Linked DNA regions of Homo sapiens: region 2 is linked to region 1. Evidence: fine-mapped expression QTL. Tissue or cell type: monocytes. Region 1 holds a variant in brackets; the other region holds the start of a gene. All regions are shown on one strand. Distances are between the middles of the regions.

Region 1 (2,753 bases):
ATGAGCATCTGGAAGAAACAGAAGTCATCGCTAGTGACGTGCCGGATGCCACGGATGGCAGCGTTCTGCCTCACGAATGTCTTGAGCAGCCCGTGCACCTTCTCGGCTCTCCGGCCGGTCAGGTGGGTCAGCAGGTCCACAATGTAGGTCCCCATGGTGTGCAAGCCCCCGCCGCCCATGAGCTCATCACAGATCCAGCCATAGCTGGGGCTCAGCAGGCTGCCTGAGTAGATGCGGGCATCACAGATCATCACCGCTCCCACATAGTGTTCCGAAATCAGCTGTTTCATGCGCACGAAGGCAGGCAGGAAGCGCAGCACGTTCCCTACCAGGCTCATGAGCTGCGGGTAGTAGCGCGAGGCTGTCACCATCCGGAAGGCATCCACCGATGTTGCTGCCTTCTCGCAAACCACATTCTTCCCAATACCTAACAACAGGACACAACAGGAAATCTCAAAGTTTCAAGGGGGAATCTCCAGCATGTCCGCCTGCCCTGAGGATTTTGGACTTCTCTGCCTTACAACTGCACGAACTAATTTTTTTTTCTTTTTTGTAGAGGTGGGGTCTTGCTATGCTGCCCAGGCTAGTCTCAATCTCCTGGCCTCAAGCGATCCTCCATCTTGGCCTCCTAAGTGGGACCACAGGTGTGTACCACCACGCCTGGCTAATTTAAAATTTTTTTTTTGTAGAGATGGGGTCCTCCTCTGTTGCCTAGGCAGGGCCCAAGTGATCCTCCTGCCTTGGCCTCCCAAAGTGCTGAGATTACAGGTGTGAGCCACCATGCCTGGCCCCAATTTCTTCAAATAAATCTCTGTCTTAAACACCCTATTGGTTCTGTTTCTCTGGAGAACCCTGAATAACACAGGTGGGCTAGAGAGGTGGGCACACTTCATGGACGTGTCTCTATGTTGTCATGCATTTATTAGGTCATCAGCTTGGGGCAAGGAAATCTAACCTATTTTCTAGGGGATGGACTATTCATAACTTCTACTCTTAGTCATAACTCCAGAGAGGGCCCTAAGATTCCCTGCAGATTGTTCTCTGAAAACACTGGTCCAACAAGTTAGAGTGGCCCAAGGCTAGAACATGTTTGGCTCCGGCAGGAAGGGAAGGAAGTGAGAATACCCTTTTTGCCCTCACACCCATTCTGGGTACGCTGCAGCCAACACGCACCCAGAGGTAAACAAAGCTGGACAAAGCCCTGAGGAGAGTGCTAGAGGATAAGCAGCTGGGAACTGAAGGGATGAATGCTGCTCCATGTTTCAAGATGAAAGCTTGTGAGGATATGAGCAGCCATGAGACACTAACACCTGCAGTGTTCCTGCGAGCTTTGTGTGGTTCAAGTCGAAGGAAATCCTGTGCTAATACTTTAAATAGAAAACTTAGAAAGCCCAAAAAGCAGTATGGACTAGACACATACAGAAGTTTACAAGTCATAGTAAGCCAGAAAGGGTAAAGACACCCTGGCAAAAACCCACGAAAAAGCTCTCCAATGTGCAATAGCTTCTCGGAATAAAAGCCAAAGTCCTTACAAAGGCCCCACCCATAAGGTCTTGATACATGATCTGTGCACTCCTCCAAAATTTTCTTTTTAAAAAAATATTGAGATAGAGTCTCACTCTTGCCCAGGCTGGAGTGCAGTCGCATGATCTCGGATCACTGCAACTTC[C/T]GCCTCCTGGGTTCAAGCGGTTCTCCTGCTACAGCCTCCTGAGTAGCTGGGATTACAGGTGCCCACCACCACGCCCGGCTAACTTTTGTATTTTTAGTGGAGACAGGGTTTCACCATGTTGGCCAGGCTGGTCTCCAACTCCTGACCTCAGGTGATCCACCCGCCTTGGCCTCCCAAAGTGCTGGGATTAAGGCATGAGCTGCCATGCCTGACCACTCCAAAATTATCTTTTTGACTCTTTGCCTCCTGTGGTCTCTCGGTTGCTCATCCTGCTCTAGCCACTGAATGTGAGATGGGGGCTGCTGTGCAGAAGGACTTGGGGATTGGGGAGAGGCAATGATCACGAAATGCTGAAGGACTGAGAAGGCAGGGGTGGGTTAGGAAACGAGACTGAAAGCATTACACAGAGCCTACATGCAATGTGGAAAACTGGATACCAAGTCTTGGGCTGGACTAATTCATGTGCTTACCCTTCTAGTTGAAGCCCATCTGGGCAATGTGTGCACCTGGGCTTCTCCTCCACAGCCATCCAGGCTCCACTCTGGCACTCCACAGGTACTTCCTGGTTGGAGGGGCAGCCTTAGGCCTGGATGCCTGTGACCTGGGGCAACCGGTCACAAGAATGTGCCTTCTCCAGGTATGTGCATCTTCAGTAACCATGGTGCTCATCTTCCCTCAGGCCCCCAAACATTTTCTGAATGTTTTCAGATGAGGTAATGGTTAAGACACAGATTATTTCTGATGGCTCACTGCAGGGTGCAGCTTACCCTGATGGACCAAGATGGATTCTGTTCACACAGGCTCAGGAGGGGCCAGCTTACAGCAGAAACAATAGTAACTACAGACAATAAATCTTGCAACAAAAACTAAGAAAACTTCATAGAGATGGCCAATGTCTTGGCTGGGCATGGTGGCTCACGCCTATAATCCCAGCACTTTGGGAGGCCAAGGTGGGTGGATCACCTGAGGTTGGGAGTTTGAGACCAGCCTAACTAGCAGGAAGAAACCCCGTCTCTACTAAAAATACAAAATTCGCTGGGCGTGGTGGCACATGCCTGTAATCCCAGCTACTCGGGAGGCTGAG
Region 2 (2,753 bases), 200 kb after region 1:
CCCAGTTGTGTTGGAGTATAGGTCAGGAGCTGTGGAAGGAGGCAGTCTGTGAGGGACTCATGCTTTAGGAGTCCTCACCCCTCAGACTGCTGCAGGACATTGCCAGGCCTCTCTCCACTTCCTTCCTCAGCATACAGACTTCATGCTATCTTCCAATTCCGGGGAGTCTTAGCTATTAGGGCAGTTTCTGCTTCTCCATTTTGGGGACAAAGGCCTTGCCCAGTACAAATCTAGCCCCTTGTCCCACAGACTTCTGGATGGTATAAACCTAGTGGCAATGTAGCAACCATAGGCTAGAACCAAACCCAAGATTTGGGTCAGTGCCCTGTTAAGGGTTTTAGGATTGGTAAGGACACCACAGCTAAATCTGACATGTAAAAGGATACCCTTCCCCTGTCCCACTACGGGTGGAGGCTAAGGACCTCCTCAGATCCCACAGATTGCCTGGTGACATTGGGCACAGGGCTGGATGGTGTGCTGTTTGAGAGGACAGCATGCTCAGGAGATTTCAGTGGGAATGATCTCTAGGCTGATGTGTATTTGGGGAAGTGGGGGTGGGGAAGAGGTAGGTGCCTGCTGCCTCAAACCACCTTGTGTAAAATCTGCAATACGGCTTCTTCCATGTACCTGTGCCTGAACTGTCTGCAATAAAGAAGAATTTGTAAACTGTGGTTTCTTTCTTCCAACCTGAGGGTGCCAGGTGGGACAAGGGGATGCTGGGGGACAGTAGGGAACAATGACTGGTCATTGTAGTGGGATCATCTCCCCTGCTCTTGCAATTCCTGAGTTTTATGACCTCGAGGGTAGCCTCAGGCCTTGAGTTATTCCGACCCATTCCCAAAGGGAACCTGAGGCACCTGCCAATTCAGCATATTCTGGGGGTCTGAGGGACCTTAGCATGGGCGGCTAAGTTGACCCCGTCCCAGGACCATCGGAGTCCATGCTCTGGGAGTGGGCAGGGACCTGGCGCCTTCTGAGTCGAGTAGGGCTTTAGGTGGCCCAGTGCGTGGACGCTTACTTCAGCCCCGTGGGACTTTCCTGACCTCGCGGACACAGGGGCGGGGCCGCCGAGGGGGACTGGCTGCGGGAGGGGTTTAGGCTTCCGCCCCCAGCCCGGAACCTTTCTTCTCCGGCCCTGGCAGGTTCCGGGAGCCTCGGCTCGTGGGTGCCGGAAGTGGAGGCGGTTGGTGGGGTTGGCGGGGCTCAGCGACGCTGCGCGGGTGGCGGTTTGCGAACTGCGGGTGGACTGTGTAGTGACCGGCGTCCCGCTGTCTCGCCCCGTGGCGGGTGAGCGAGGGTGCGTGGTGCGCGGCGGCGGCGGAACGAACGCGGTGCGGGCGGGGCGCCCGCCGCAGGGCCCATGGCCTCCTGCGCGAGCATCGACATCGAGGACGCCACGCAGCACCTGCGGGACATCCTCAAGCTGGACCGGCCCGCGGGCGGTGAGCGGGGGTTGCGGGGGTGGGCCCCAGGCGAGCTGACAAAAGGGCGGCGCGCGTCTGAACCGCCATTGGGGCCCACAGCTCCCTTAGGACTAGCTCTGGATCCTCCCGGCGGGTAAGGGTGGACGGGGATTGACTGTGCCCCTCGAAGGGCGCAGACCCCTGGGTGTGACCCCTCCCTATCTTGTCCTCAGGCTGTTCTGCCTTGTCCTTCAGCGTCTCGGTTGAAGGTGAGGCGCCTTCTCTGAATCCGCTGGGGCCCTCTGGTTTCCTGGCCCCGAGGTCTCTAGTGTTCCTGGGACTGGCCTAGCTCCTCTTCCCTTTCTCCATGGTTCAGAGGCCTGGTCTGGGCTCCGTATATGGAATTCTGGGCCCAGGCTTAAGCGCGATGCTGAAGAGCTGCCGGTCCCCCTCCATAACTTGCCCTTCTCTCTGGAATAAAGACTCCAGGCCTCCCGTTCTGAAACTGATTTCCAGGAGGAAGGTGTCCAGTCTCAATTCCGTGTTCTTTCTGGGATGAAGGCAAATCACAGACCGCACCACCCTGACTGAATTATGCTACAAATATCTGCAAGCCCTAATTGGTTCCCATTCATTCATATTTCGCTTTGGCTCTTAATGATACCTCAGAACTAGTCTTGCCCCCAAAGATTCCCCAAGACACAGCTAACAGGGTTGTAATATACTGTTGTCATTGAAAGAAAGGAGTGTCTCGATACTGTGATGGGCGTGGGAAGGGTGGAGGCTGGTGAGTGCAGAGTGCAGGTCTGAGAGGGGAGACTGGGCTAGGTCTTGTAATGTGAACAGGGGCTTGGGTGTCAGGAAAGGCACCCAAGGCACCTATGGAGAAGCCACCTATTAGGAAGAGGAAATAGCACGTGTGCAGGCACTAGTTTACTGACAGGTTTAGGGATCTCTGAAGTGGCCGGTGATGATGGTGTGGGCGTACAGTGGAGAATTGTGTTTCCTCAGATCTTGTTCTTACACCTGCTGGGAGGCCCAGACTGGCTGCTTCTGGAAGCAGGCACTGGTGCTCACTAGGGGTGGATTCAACTAACCCCTACTTTCAGAAAATCCATCTGCTGCCTGAGACCACTCGGCCCTTTGTCCCAGGCCTGGAGTGTGTGCCCTCTTTACTCATGAGTTGGGCGTGGACCTCTCCTGCTGCTCAGCTGCTTTGTAGACTAGACTCCGCAGAGATTTGGTAGAGCCTGGCATGGCCAACCATGTACAGCCTGAGCCTGCTTTTTGGTTGTCCTCATGGTACCCTTCATGGAAGGGAGAGTTGTCAGCTTGTCCCTGAGCAGCTAA

Evidence for each region. PIP is the estimated chance that this variant, and not a neighbour inherited with it, causes the effect. A credible set is the group of variants that fine-mapping cannot tell apart.
Region 2: it holds the start of EDC4, and the variant in region 1 is the best candidate, but not a certain one, in a credible set for the expression of EDC4 in monocytes (TOPMed, PIP 0.51).

The regions. Positions count from the first base shown.
Region 1 is chr16:67,675,627-67,678,379 of GRCh38, forward strand. It overlaps GFOD2 (Gfo/Idh/MocA-like oxidoreductase domain containing 2), which reads right to left. Exons shown (of 3, transcript NM_030819.4): 3 at 1-427. Among named protein-coding and RNA genes, the nearest start is that of C16orf86, 10 kb to the left of the region's middle. RefSeq lists enhancers at 1,440-2,396, 2,397-2,753. The variant C/T (reference allele first, on the strand shown) is at 1,670.
Region 2 is chr16:67,871,902-67,874,654 of GRCh38, forward strand. EDC4 (enhancer of mRNA decapping 4) reads left to right here and starts at 1,151. Exons shown (of 29, transcript NM_014329.5): 1 at 1,151-1,442. The coding sequence starts at 1,361. NUTF2 (nuclear transport factor 2) reads left to right here. Exons shown (of 5, transcript NM_005796.3): 5 at 1-666. RefSeq lists a silencer at 1,264-1,473 and an enhancer at 1,367-1,867.